4 linked regions of the Homo sapiens genome follow. The protein of the gene in region 1 purifies or fractionates together with the protein of each later gene. This does not show direct contact. Each region holds a gene or a part of one and is shown in the gene's direction. Other genes may lie near its edges.

Region 1 (3,500 bases):
GGCGGATCACGAGGTCAGGAGTTCCAGACCAGCCTGGCCAACATAGTGAAACCCCATCTCTACTAAAAATACAAAAATTAGCCGGGCATGGTGGTTTACGTCTGTATTCCCAGCTACTCGGGAGGCTGAGGTAGGAGAATCGCTTGAACCTGGGAGGCGGAGGTTGCGGTGAGCCGAGATCACTCCACTGCACTCCAGCCTGAGCAACAGAGCGAGACTCCGTCTCAAAAAAAAATAATAAAATACTGAACTGACTACCATGAGGTCATCCCAGTGGTGGCTTTTGTCTAGTATATGCAACAACAGTGGATATCTTCATGCATATCTATTTTTAAAAATTGACTATAGTAGGTAATACATGTACATTGTACAGAAAGCATAGCATAAAAGTAACATTTCTTTCTGTCTCTGCCCCCAGTTTCCCTCTTCAGAAGCAACCATGGTTACCAGTTTCTCACATCCCCTTCCAGAAATGTTCTACTTTCATTTACATATTTTGTCTCAGAAACACTAGCGTATCCGAAACACTGTTTTTTCACTTATGCTGGAGATGAATACATCAGTACATAGAGATACTCATTCTTTTTTATGTCTGCATAGTATTCCATTGTCAGACTGGACTGCCATTTATTTAACTAATCACTTACCGAGGAAGCATTAAGTTTGTCTCCAGTCTTTGCTGTTATATTCACAATATATCACGAAATCTTGGCATGCACAGACATTTGCACACGTGTAAGAAATTTTTAGAAGTGGGAGGGTGAAAGTAGGCTGCATTTTTATGTTAATACTGTCAGAGTGTTTTCTGTAGAAATCTTAGCTATGCACAATTATACTAATAATATGTGTGGTTCTGTTCCCTACACCCTCCCTGACCCAGGGGATTATCAAATCTTTACATATTTTCTAGTTTGATGTGCAAAAAATTGTATTTGGTGGTGGTTGTGACTTGCATTTCTCTTGTTATGAAGGAAGTTAAACATCTTTTTGAAAGTTTTTGAGCCATCCATATTTCCTGTTCTTTGAACAGTCTCTTCATTTCCTTTGCCTTTATGTGTGTGTATATGCTGTGAGAAGCATTATTTTCTTATGTATTTATAGGTACACTTTATGTATGATGTAAATTAACCCTTCTGGATGACTTGTAACCATTTTCCTCGAGTTTGCTGTTTGGTTTTTTAAATTTTGTACATGATATTTTTGTTATGTAGAAACGTATGGTTTGGTTAGAGTTGTATGAATTAATCTTCTTTTTTATGATTTCTTATGTTAGCTTTAAGGCTTGGAAGATTCCTGGAAGACTGGGGGGAAATCCTATGTTTTCTTCTAACATTTTTATGATCTTATAACTTCTTTATTTTGGGGTTGGAGATACCTGTTTTGCTTTTCTGAGCTATTAGGATAAATTGCTAGAAAGGTCAGAGGATATAACCAGCATTTCATGCAGACGTTGACTTGCTTGTAACAACGTCCTAAACATTTAGTTTGGCAGTGGCCCTTATTAATGTAAGGATTAGAGGCTAGCCAGCTGTTAAGCAGCCTTTCCACCTCCGTTTGGGAGATAGCTGTCTTCCCAGGTCACAGGTCTCCCTTTCCTTCTTCATCTTCCTGTTCTGAACCATCTGCAGATCTCTCCCTCTCCCTCTCCGTCTCCCTCTGCCTCTCTGTAGCAACATTTTCTGCAGGTGCCTTTACTTTGGCCTTTAGTCCAAGATAGGATTGAGTCGAAAGTTGGTGTCATTTAAAAACATGGTGGGGGCTGGGCGCGGTTGCTCACGCCTGTAATCCCAGCACTTTGGGAGGCCGAGGTGGGCGGATCACGAGGTCAGGAGTTCAAGACCATCCTGGCCAACGTGGTGAAACCCCGTCTCTACTAAACATACAAAAAAATTAGGAGGGCGTGGTGGCGGGCGCCTGTAGTCCCAGCTACTCGGGAGGCTGAGGCAGGAGAATGGCGTGAACTCGGGAGGCGGAGCTTGCAGTGAGCGGAGATCACAACACTGCACTAACTGTCTGGGGGACAGAGCCAGGCTCCGTCTCAAAAAACAAAAAACAAAAAACAAAAAAACATGGTGGACTTTCTGAATCTTTGTCCTGAGGTTGCCACAAACTGGTGGTGTGTGGGAGCCAGCTTGGCTTCTATTGACTCTGAGCCTGCTGCACGTGTCTATCCAACTTCACATTCAGTAATGTCATGCTGGCAGCTTGAAATTCACCATGGTGGGAGCATTTACACCATAGGAATTGGCAAACAGTGGAGATCAGGGTTTTTTTTCTTCATAGAGCCGGTTGTTAAACATTTATCACACTAATGAGTGTGACCCTGGACCACTTGAAAAAATTTTTTTGGCCGGGCGCGGTGGCTCACGCCTGTAATCCCAGCACTTCGGGAGGCCGAGGGAGGTGGATCACCTGAGGTCAGGAGTTCAAGACCAGCCTGACCGACATGGTGAAACCCCGCCTCTACTAAATATACAAAAATTAGCTGGGCATGGTGGTGGGTGCCTGTAATCCCAGCTACTCAGGAGGCTGAGGCAGGAGAATCGCTTGAACCCAGGAGGCAGAGGTTGCAGTGAGCCAAGATTGCGCCATTGCACTCCAGTCTGGGCAACAGAGTGAGACTCCATCTATCTCAAAAAAAAAAAAAAAAAAAGAGAGAGAGAGGCCAGGCATGGTAGCTCATGCCTGTAATCCCAGCACTTTGGGAGGCCGAGGTGGGTGGATCATGAGGTCAGGAGATGGAGACCATACTGACTAACACAGTGAAACCCCATCTCTACTAAAAATACAAATAATTATCCAGGTGTGGTGGCGGGCACCTGTAGTCCCAGCTACTTGGGAGGCTGAGGCAGGAGAATGGCGTGAACCCGGGAGGCGGAGCTTGCAGTGAGCCGAGATTGCACCACTGCACTCCAGCCTGGGCAACAGAGCAAGACTCTGTCTCAGACAAAAAAAAAAAAAAAAAAAGAAAGTTTCTTTCCTCTCTCCTCCTTTTCACAGATTTGAGTGCCTGTTCTGAGCTGAGCATTGTGCTATGTGTTGGGGATACAATGATATGTGAAAGTAGACAGCTCAGCTTCCATAGAGCTTAGAGACTTCTGGGGAAGGCACACCCAAACTGATCAAGTAATAATCTTTTCATTACAAAGTGAGTTAAGCGTGTAGAAAGAAAGGGAATTGAGAGACTAGAACAACAACAACAAAACCCTGACCTAGACAGACTGGTCTATGTAAGAAAGTGACATCTGAGATGAGAGCTGAGGTTTGAGTAGGAGGTAGAGAGAGAGGCAAAAGAGGAGAGATGTGTGTGTTTTCCAGAGACAGCAAATGGCACTTGCAAAGGCCCTGTGGTGTGTAGGGCCTGGAATTGATAGCAATTGATATGGGAATGGGGGGTGGCGATGGCTTATAAACCGTGCTAAGAACTTTTCCTCTAATTTTAGAGCAAAGGAAAACCATTAAAGAGTATTAAGTGGGATAAGGGATATGATGCAGTCAGA
Region 2 (3,500 bases), on another chromosome or scaffold:
AATCATCAACAGTTGGGGGATAACTCTACCCTTTCCATTTGGTTTGGAAAATCTACTTTTTCATATATTCAGTCATTATATATAAATTGGGGTTTTTTTTTGAGTTTCCATACTGGTTTTATTTTATTTTTATTTCTTTTTGGTGACAAATCTACATATTCATACATTGAAAGAAGTGTTAAGAAGGACTAAATGTGTTCCTATGTCTTTATGGCAGAACAGGTTTACTCAGGAGAGGATTATGGTTTATTTCATGTTGCATTTTCTTTCTGAAGTTGAAGTGGAATTACAGACCTGAAATAGTTATGTTGTTATCTTTAAATGATATTACAGATTTGCTAAGACTCTCATTGACTTCCAGAAGCATTCACAGTTTCTGAAATAGTTACATTAGTTTTGTTCAGTTCTCCAGATTTGAAGGCAGAGACTCATTTTTGATGTGTGTGTGTCTTCTTTGGTTCTTAGTTTAACGCTGGGTGTGTTAACAGAATTGATTGTTTTGAACTCGATTGCTTTGCAGATACAGTGGAAGGTCTTGATGCCCAGGTTGTAAATGGTTACATGATTCATGATCAGGAAAGCAAATCAGAGGTTCAGATTCCTTACCCTCTGTCAGAAAACAATCAAGTGCAGAGTGGAAGAGCTTTCCATCACGGAAGATTCATCATGAGTCTCCGGAAAGCAGCTATGGCAGAGCCCAAGTAAGACCACAGTTTCAAATATATAATTACTAAAGAATCAATGCATTTAAATTTGACCTTTGTACAAATAAGATTTTATAAATTTTAATGAATTTTTGGGGCATAGTCTAGAACATATGTATATTAAAATAAACTGTCAGTCAAAAGAGTGTTAGATATTCAGTGCTTTTGTTAAGAATATCATATAGAGAATTTTCCTTTGACATGGAACTATGAAGAGTTCTCCTTTGACTAAATGAAAATTACATAATTTTTATGTGACGGGAATTTAGAGGATATATTTGTAACTAAGGCATAAGTCCATTTGTGCACATTTTGGAGTTTGAGTTTGTGGTTACGATACTTTCTATTAGAAGTCAGGATACAAAACTGCAAGGAGAAATCCCTGTTTCATTCTCACTAAAGACCCAGTCTGTTAGGACTGGCTTCTTCTCTTGTTTATTAACTTATATTTACCAGTAACCTTTAAAACACTAATTGAAGAAGTTTTAAGCGTGAGAACCCTCATGTGACTGACACAGACTAAAGTATTGACAAAGCAAGTGAAGAAGCAAGTGGACTTAATCCTTTGGACTAAAAAGACTTGATATCCATGGAAGAAGAGTATGTTCACTGTATGAAAATGGAAAAATCGGCCAGGTGCGGTGGCTCATGCCTGTAATCCCAGCACTTTGGGAGGCTGAGGTGGGCAGATCACGAGGTCAGGAGTTCAAAACCAGCCTGGCCAATATGGTGAAACCCCGTCTCTACTAAAAATAAGAAAAAATTAGCCAGGCGTGGTAGCACGCACCTGCAGTCCCAGCTACTTGGGAGGCTAAGGCAGGAGAATTGCTTGAACCCAGGAGGTGGAGGTTGCAGTGAGCCGAGATAGCGCCACTGCACTCCAGCCTGGGCGACAGAGCGAGACTTGGTCTCAAAAAAAAAAAAAAAGAAAATGGAAAAATAGTCCCAAATATAAAGATTATAAAAATTACCTGTGATCTTTCTGACTAGAAATAATTACTCTTTCTTTTTTTTGAGACTGAGTCTCGCTCTGTCACCCGGGCTGGAGGGCAGTGTTGCAATCTCGGCTCACTGCAACCTCTGCCTCCCGAGTTCAAGCAATTCTCCTGCCTCAGCCTCCCGAGTAGCTGGGATTACAGGCACATGCCACCACGCCTGGCAAATTTTTGTATTTTTAGTAGAGACGGGGTTTCACCATGTTGGCCAGGATGGCCTTGATCTCCTGACCTTGTGATCCGCCCACCTTGGCCTCCCAAAGTTCTGGGATTACAGGTGTGAGCCACCGTGCCCTGCCAGAAATAATTACTCTTAACAGTTTGCAGGATGCATTCCAATACTTGTTTTCCCCTCTGTGTATGAATGTATGAGGGTATGTAAAGTTTCTCTGCCTATATTTTATTTTTTAACAAATTAATTTATTTTTAACAAATTAAGATGAAAATCCAATGTTACTTTTTAAAATATTTTTAAAATATTTAATGATTACTAATGATTACTAATGTAATCATTAGTAATATGTATTAAATGTTGATAAATTAGAAAATAAAAAACACACATTGGACACGTGTTTGCACACACATGCATGTCCAGTTTATATGGATAAACTGGAGATAAGGAATTTATATTTAATTTAAATTGCTGAAATGTGCTGCTTTAGAAATGTATTTTTTTTTATTCTTTAGTGCAAAGTTTATTGAAGGTGTTGTGTTACAGTTATTAGAGGAAGATGATGTTGTGATGGGAGTTCAGTACAAGGATAAAGAGACTGGAGATATCAAGGTGAGAAATACCAAATGTCACCTCTTCCTAAGAGATGTTGTTTTTCCTGCTTTTTCACTTACCCCTTTAAAAAAGTAGGCTTACCGGTTTACATGTTGAGTATCTCTTATCTGAAATGCTAGGGATCAGAAGTGTTTCAGATTTTTTATTTTTTTCAGATGTTTGCATTATACTTACCAGTTGAGCATCTCTAATCTGAAAATCTGAAATTTGAAATGATCTAATGAGTATTTTGTTTGTCACATTACTGCTCAAAAAGTTTTGGATTTCAGATTTTTGGATTAGAGATACTCAGCCTGTGTTATTTATCAAATGAACTGAGTTCTTTCTAAGCCATATGCAACAGGATGGGTTTCAGATTGCAACACATTGTTCTTTAGAGGACTTCAGAATGCTATGCAAAAAACATTTTAAACAGAACTAATGTGAATAGTTTTTGAAACAGTAATATACATCAGCAGAGAAGCAGAGGGGAACTAGCAGGGGAAAGAAGGCAAGATTCAACATAAAAGAAATGATTCAGATAAAATGAGCAATTTAACTCAGGTAATAGTAAGAGAATCTTTTTAAAAACAATTTATCCTTTTATTTTATTTTATTTTATTTTGTTTTATTTTTTGAGACGGAGTTTCACTCTTGTTGCCCAGGCTGGAGTGCAATGGTGCGATCTCGGCTCACTGCAACCTCCACCTCCCAGGTTCAAGCGATTCTCCTGCCTCAGCCTCCTGAGTAGCTGGGATTACAGGCATGCTTCACCGCATCCGGCTAATTTTGTATTTTTAATAGAGACGGGGTTTCTCCATGTTGGTCAGGCTGCTCTTGAACTTCCAGCCTCAGGTGATCTGCCCACCTCAGCCTCCCAAAGTGCTGGGATTACAGGCGTGAGCCACCGCACCCGGCCAATTTTTCCTTTTTTTAAAAAAAAATTATCGTAGTAAAAAACATGTAATTCTGGACTGCTCCCCATAGGGTTACCACCTCTTAGAAATTGTCCTCTAATGAAGGTGACTGGAATGT
Region 3 (3,500 bases), on another chromosome or scaffold:
GAGAAAGTGAAAAAGCAGTTAGCTGATGCAGTGGCAGAACTTAAACTAAATGCTATGAAAAAAGATCAGGTAAAACAAGTTAATTTTGAATTTGCATTTTGATTTAAGAAACCACTATAATCTCACAAAGTAGTAAATTGTGTTAAGATAAGACAGGTCAGATTTCTGCCTTATTTTAAATTTAAAATTTTCATTCCTTTTGTTTAGTCATTGTGACTTCTTGGCTTACAGTTAATGTGTGCTGTAAGGAAAACTTCTGTAAGCAGAATTCTTAATGGTTGGTGAAAGCTGCCCTATTGATTAAATATATTGATGTCAGATATGTATTGTTTTGTTTGGAATTTCTTACTAGCTGTATAAAACAGTATTATGGTTGTTTAAGGGAGTAATAATTGCTCTTCAGGAGGTGGATTATTTTTCTCTAGTTTTTTAAATGAACCTTAGTCCTAAGAATGTAAAACTGGACTTAACAAGAGACCCTATGTTGCTCTGTAGCCAAAATCCCAAAATAAAAAAGTGGCCGGGGACAGTTGCTCACACCTATAACCTCAGCACTTTGGGGGGCTGAGGTGGGAAGATCGCTTGATCCCAGGAATTCAAGACCAGCCCGGGCAACATAGTGAGACCTCATCTCTACAAAAATTTTCAAAAATTACCCAGGTGTGGTGGTGTGCAGCTGTAGTCCCAGCTAGTCCAAAGGCTGAGACAAGAGGATTGCTTGAGCCAGGAGGTCAAGGCTGCAGTGAGCCATAATTGGGCCACTGTGTTTCAGCCTGGGTGACAGAGCAAGACTCTGTCTCAAAAACAAAAAAAAGAAAAAAAGTAAGATTGAAGTTGGGGTTACTATTAACATTAGGAGGTATCAGATTTTTATTTTTTTCTTCAAATGTTTGTTTCTTTCTAGGACAAGACTGATACACTGGAACACGAACTAAGAAGAGAAGTTGAAGATCTGAAACTCCGTCTTCAGATGGCTGCAGACCATTATAAAGAAAAATTTAAGGAATGCCAAAGGCTCCAAAAACAAATAAACAAACTTTCAGATCAATCAGTAAGTATCATTAAATTTACACATAGTAAAATGTGTTGTTAGTATTTTTGTTCGAAAATCAAATTTGTAATATTCCAAATATCAACCTTTTAAATATTATTTATCTCTGCTTGATTTCAAGTCATTGGCCAAATATTGTAATAACTCTTCTTTAAAAAAGTCTGGAATTTTAATTTACTGGACAGCCAACAAAGGAAGCAAGGGCAGTAGCAAGGAAAAAACAGAAAAAAGTCTTCTTTTCTAGATAATTTCCCTCTTAAGTTCTTGATAAATATCTGTCACTCAAAACTCAATACTTATTATTGACTCTTGTGACCATGACATCTATCCTCATTGGAGTTCACCATTAATCATCCCTAGGTCTTAGATGGTGTCTCAGTTGTAATTGGCAAGTTCTTCATACTCATATTATGAAGATTCCTATTCCTATTAGATTAGGAACAGTTAAAGAGTGTTAGCTAATTCTTTTTTATTCCATTTGAGAATAGGTAGGTAGATTTGTAATATACCAAAGAAGATGTTTTTGTTTTGAGGTATGTATGTTTCAATGTGGGTCCTTAAACTGTGCTTAAATACAAGGCTTACTATCTGAGGAACTCCTGGAAATGTAGAAGAAACATATTTAAAACCTGAAATTGAAAGTGGTACTATAGCTCTCTTTTACTATGTGATGCATATGATACTTTCCTGGTCCTACTTTTTTAAATCAGAGGAGACAAGCAAGGAATGCATGTAGTAAAGTAGGAAGGCTTTTGTGAAAAAATATGATACTTTAAGTATGACTCACTCACATGTATGAATTTGGCCTGGGGCCTTTTGAGTACGTTATAACTTTGTAGTAGATTTCTGTGAATGACTTATTTTGGTGGTCTTTTGATGAGTTTATAAGAAAAAGCAAAATATAGTATATTTCTTTTGCAACATTTAGGTCAGTTAGCAAAATGATGTGTATAACTTTAGTCTTTGTTGGCTTTTAAAACAAGAGCAGCTTTGTGGACTTCTTAGGATTTCCTAAAGTAATATGTAAAAATATTATTTACTTAGTTACTGCAAGGAGGAAATATAACTAATTCATTGACTCATTTAACAACTTATTAACATTTTGAATAGGCTAATAATAATAATGTCTTCACAAAGAAAACGGGGAATCAGCAGAAAGTGAATGATGCTTCAGTAAACACAGACCCAGCCACTTCTGCCTCTACTGTAGATGTAAAGCCATCACCTTCTGCAGGTAAAAATCTTTTAGACTTTTTGTGTAGGGTGTCCTACATTGAAAAGTACTTATACTGCCTTCTTCCATGTGTTAGAATTTCAGGATGTTCATAAAAATTTTCATGTGATAAGTGAAGGAATTGAGGCAACAAGAAAATAAGGGTATAAATGTAAAATAGAGTCATGCAAGTGGTGAATATACACAACATGAACATATAAAATGTGAATGTAAACTAGTAGTTATCTTCTTGAGACTATTCACACATGTTAAAAATGAGCTGGTGCTTGTGAGTACTCATTTGGGCTACATAGGACAAAAGCCACGAATTGAATTTTTACTTTATGTTCCATTAAATCTATGGAATTTTGAAGCATTTTATTTGTGGATTTTAATTTTTAAATTCTGCAGGGGAAAAAATCCCCTATTATTCTCATATTTTTCTATTTATTCATTTATTTTTGGCTGCTTTGGATCAATGGGGGTACTTCTTCCCTTGTCAATGTACCTGTTGGCTGATGAGTTAAGTTTTTATTAGTTTATTAACTTATAGAACAGAATAGAGAGACATAGTGAGAACATTAATAACATGAAAACTTGGATTAACTAGGTTTTCATCTGTCCTGATTTTTTCACTTTTATGTAAATTTGACAGTAATGACGTTAAATACTAGAGAAAGTATATTTTCTTGTTTAGTGTGTGTAGTAATTGATCTTTTAAGTCTTTTTAAATGTAAACATCTTAGACTATTAAATATTAGGTTTATCCCCTGTAGGACAGAATTGAGCCTTCTGTTTCCATGTATCCTCTGTAGTACCTAAAATGGTGTTATAGGGTATTTACTTAATAAAGACTTAGTGGTAATGAAGGGCTAGAAGAATGATTTAAAATGTGTTCTTGGTGGGGTATGGTGGCATGCGCTTGTACTCCTAGCTACTCTGGAAGCTGTGGCAAGAGGATCACTTGAGCTCAAGAGTTTGAGGCTAGCCTGGGCAACATAGTGAGACCCTGGCTTTCAGAGAGGGGAAAGAGAATTCTCAGAGTATGGTTTTCCTACTTACCCTGTCTATTCAGTTATATAAGGAGAACAATTTTTGTGCTGTTATGGAACTCTTTTTAGCAAATTTTGTTTTGTTTTGTTTTTGAGACAGAGTCTCACTCTGTCCCCCAGGCTGGAGTGCAGTGGCGTGATCTCAGCTCCCTGCAGCCTCTGCCTTCTGGGTTCAAGCAATTCT
Region 4 (3,500 bases), on another chromosome or scaffold:
GGGGATCAGGAAGAGTTCAAGCTGGGAAAAATCACTTGGGGTACTTTTTGTAACAAGGAAAGGGAATTCAGTGTAGGTCAGATGAGCAATTCAAAGGGGTCTGTTTGGGATGCCATAATAATACCACAGACTGGGTGGCTGAAACAACAGAAATGTATTTCTCACAATTCTGGAGGTTAGAAGTCCAGGGTCAAGGTGCTAGCAAAATAGTTTCATTCTGAGGCCTTTTCTTGTGGCTTGGCTGAAACAACAGAAATGTATTTCTCACAATTCTGGAGGTTAGAAGTCCAGGGTCAAGGTGCTAGCAAAATAGCTTCATTCTGAGGCCTTTTCTCTTGGCTGGTAGGCAGCTGCCATCTTGCCATGTGCTCACATAGTGGAGAGAGAGTGTGCTCTAGTGTCTCTTATAAGGACACTAATCCTATTGGATCATGGCCCCACACTTAACGACCTCATTTAACCTTAGTTACTTTCTTAGAGGCCCCATCTCCAAATACAGCCATGGTGGGGATTAAGGCTTCAACATGTGAATTTCAGGGGGAATTTCCATTCAGTCTGTAAAAGGGCCTCAGGAAGTGGCTTCACCTAGGATCTGATCTTTGGCTCTAGGGGATCAGAAATGTGACTTTGTTTCTCCTGCACAAACTCATGGACCTGACATAGGGGAAGTCCAGTTATGAGAACCTGATATTGTGTATGGCATACTGCCAATTTATTAATTTACATAGTGGGCCTACCCACCATTAAGTTGTGTTTCTGCTATTCCTTTTTTTTTTTTTTTTTTTTTTTTTGAGAGAAGGTCTCACCCTGTTGCCTAGGCTGTAGTGCAGTGGTGTCATCTTGGCTCACTGCAACCTCTGCCTCCCGAGCTCGAGTGATCCTCCCACGTCAGCCTCCTGAGTAGCTGGAACCACAGGCGTGCGCCACCATGCCCGGCTAATTTTTGTATTTTTTATAGAGACAGTGTCTCACCATGTTGCCCAGCCCACTGGTTTTGAACTCCTGGGCTCAAGCGATCCGCCTGCCTCAGCCTCCCGAAATGCTAGGATTACAGACGTGAGCCACTATGCCTAGCCCATTTCTGCTATTCAAAACACTTCATTATGGTGCCAGCACCCTGTATTAGTCATCAGAAGGTTTTTCATTAAGTGTGGAACCAGAGTGAAGGGAGGGGGGTGGTTCTGGACAGTTCTAGGAGAATCTTGATGGACTGTGCCTGCCCTACACAGAGGACACCTGTCCAGTTGGTTCATTTTGACATCAGTTGTGTTCAGGCCCCAGAAGTGTTAGACCTGCCCTGTTGGTCTCATGTCCTGATGGTGACCATCAGAGATATGATTATGTTCCCCAAGACTCACCCCAGGTGTCCTGATGGACTTGTCTTCTCAGGGTGGGACATTCCTATGCACATCTGCTTGCTCCTCTGTGAAGGTGCCAACCTCCTTTCTGCCTCAGGGCCTTTATGCAATGGCTCTTCCCTCTTGGGGGAGAGGTCTTCCAAGATTGTGTTACATCTGCAGTGATACTTTCTCTTTCTTTTACTTGTTTATTATCTAAGTCTCACCTCTTCTTTCTTGCATGAAAACTCTGTGAGGGTTGGTTATCTCCCAGGTGCCTGGAATAGTGCTTGCACTCAGTAACGTGGGCTCTCAGTAATAACTTGTTGAATGAGTAAATGAATGAGTGAATGATTGGTTGATCCATCCACTTATGTTTCAGTTTGCAGTTTTTCCTTAGTATTATTTAGCCGTGTACTGATTATACTATTTTCTGTGCAAATGAGATATGGTAGATTTTAGTAATTTGTCGAAGAGATGCCAGTACTATTGAAAGTACAATCACCAAATTGCAATGTTGACAGGAAAACCCTCTGTTACTTACTTCCAGAAGTTAGGTTATTCTTTCAGCAATTCCAATTGCTAGAAGCTCCTCAGTATATTGAGCCCAGATCCATCCTGCTGACTTCAGTCCACTGAGCCATAAAAGCAGCTCTAATTCTTCTTCGACTTGTTAGTTGTGTCCTCCAAGTCCTCTGTTGACTGTTATGCAATGTGCTGTTTTTTTTTTTTTTTTTTTTGAGATGGAGTTTTGCTCTTGTTGCCCAGGCGGAGTGCAGTGGCTCAATCTTGGCTCACTGCAACCTCCACCTCCCGGGTTCAAGCGATTCTCCTTCCTCAGCCTCCCGAGTAGCTGGGATTACAGGCACGTGCCCCAACACCCAGCTAATTTTTGTATTTTTAGTAGAGATGGGGTTTCACCACGTTGGTCAGGCTGGTCTCGAACTCCTGACCTCAGGTGATCTGCCCGCCTCGGCCTCCCAAAGTACTGAGATTACAGGCGTGAGCCACCACACCCCACCCGATAATGGGGTTTTTTGGTGACTTCACCATCTTGGTCATTTTGATGGGACGTGTTGCTGTGGTTGTTCAGTGCCTGCAGGTGGTTCAGACCTGAATATACAACTCCTGAGGTGGACTGGAGCGTGGAGCAGAATGGGCCTCTGCCAAACCCCCATCCTGTCTCTTCCCACTCTGTTGTTAAACCGCGTGGTCTGATCTAGTATTGGCCTGAGGATTCTTTCTTCAGCAATTTCTTGTCACATTTCTTCTATGTGGCATGCTGAATATTTATGGGGTTTTGTGAAGAATAAAGATGTCTGAAAAATTCCATCAAAACAGGATGTAACAACTTGGGGACAGTACCTTCAAGCCTGCTGTTAATTTAAACACACACACACACAGACACACCCACACACACACTCCCCTTTCGTAGGTAATGAGAATGTCTTGCCACCCAATGTAACAAACACCTCTGAATTTTTTTTTGTTTTTGACAGTTTTTTGTCTCACCTAATCTGGCCACCTTTGTTTTGAGCGTGGTGCCTCCAGTGTCAATCATTGCTGTAATTTATGGGCGATATCTACGGAAACTGACCAAAGTCACTCAGGATTCCCTGGCACAAGCCACTCAGGTAAAGGCCCCTTCCTGTCCGCGTGGTTTCCAGCAGAATGGGGTCATAGCCAGGATCCTAGAGGGCAGATCCTAAGGGATGTACTTAGGTTTTTCAATGAAGTGCCTGCCTTTCCTTTCATTAGAAATTACCCCAAGATCCATGAAACTTAAACTACTCTGTTTTCTAGACTAGATTTCTACCCATATCTCAAAGTAGATCTAACTTCACTAAACATTTTATGGAGTCCTCACTTGTTACTATCACTATTTCTTTTCTTTCTTTTTTTTTTTGTTTTTTTTTTTTGAGACAAGGTACATGAGAAAAGTTTTTTCATGCACTCTAGGCTGGAGCGCAGTGGTACAATCACAGCTTAGTGAAGCTTTAACCTCCCAGGCTCGAGTGATCTCCCACCTCAGCCTCCTTAGTAGCTGGGACTATCGCCCCATGCCACCATGCCCACTAATTTTTAAAATTTTTTGTAGAGACATGATCTTACTGTGTTGCCCAGGCTGGTTTCAAATTCCTGGGCTCAAGTAATCCTCCCACC

What was found. Proteins that work in one complex are often made in the same cells at the same time.
Region 2: the proteins of SLC22A23 (region 1) and SQLE purify together in Homo sapiens (affinity purification with mass spectrometry; one large-scale study listed by BioGRID and IntAct). This does not show direct contact.
Region 3: the proteins of SLC22A23 (region 1) and TAX1BP1 purify together in Homo sapiens (affinity purification with mass spectrometry; 2 studies listed by BioGRID and IntAct, with this or other methods). This does not show direct contact.
Region 4: the proteins of SLC22A23 (region 1) and ABCB10 purify together in Homo sapiens (affinity purification with mass spectrometry; one large-scale study listed by BioGRID and IntAct). This does not show direct contact.

The regions. Positions count from the first base shown.
Region 1 is NC_000006.12:3,447,051-3,450,550, reverse strand, and holds part of SLC22A23 (solute carrier family 22 member 23), read left to right. Parts: intron 1-3,500.
Region 2 is NC_000008.11:125,005,005-125,008,504, forward strand, and holds part of SQLE (squalene monooxygenase), read left to right. Parts: intron 1-520; coding exon 521-701; intron 702-2,386; coding exon 2,387-2,483; intron 2,484-3,500. UniProt on the Homo sapiens protein: Catalyzes the stereospecific oxidation of squalene to (S)-2,3-epoxysqualene, and is considered to be a rate-limiting enzyme in steroid biosynthesis.
Region 3 is NC_000007.14:27,792,162-27,795,661, forward strand, and holds part of TAX1BP1 (tax1-binding protein 1), read left to right. Parts: coding exon 1-69; intron 70-904; coding exon 905-1,051; intron 1,052-2,161; coding exon 2,162-2,285; intron 2,286-3,500.
Region 4 is NC_000001.11:229,541,708-229,545,207, reverse strand, and holds part of ABCB10 (ATP-binding cassette sub-family B member 10, mitochondrial), read left to right. Parts: intron 1-2,836; coding exon 2,837-2,971; intron 2,972-3,500.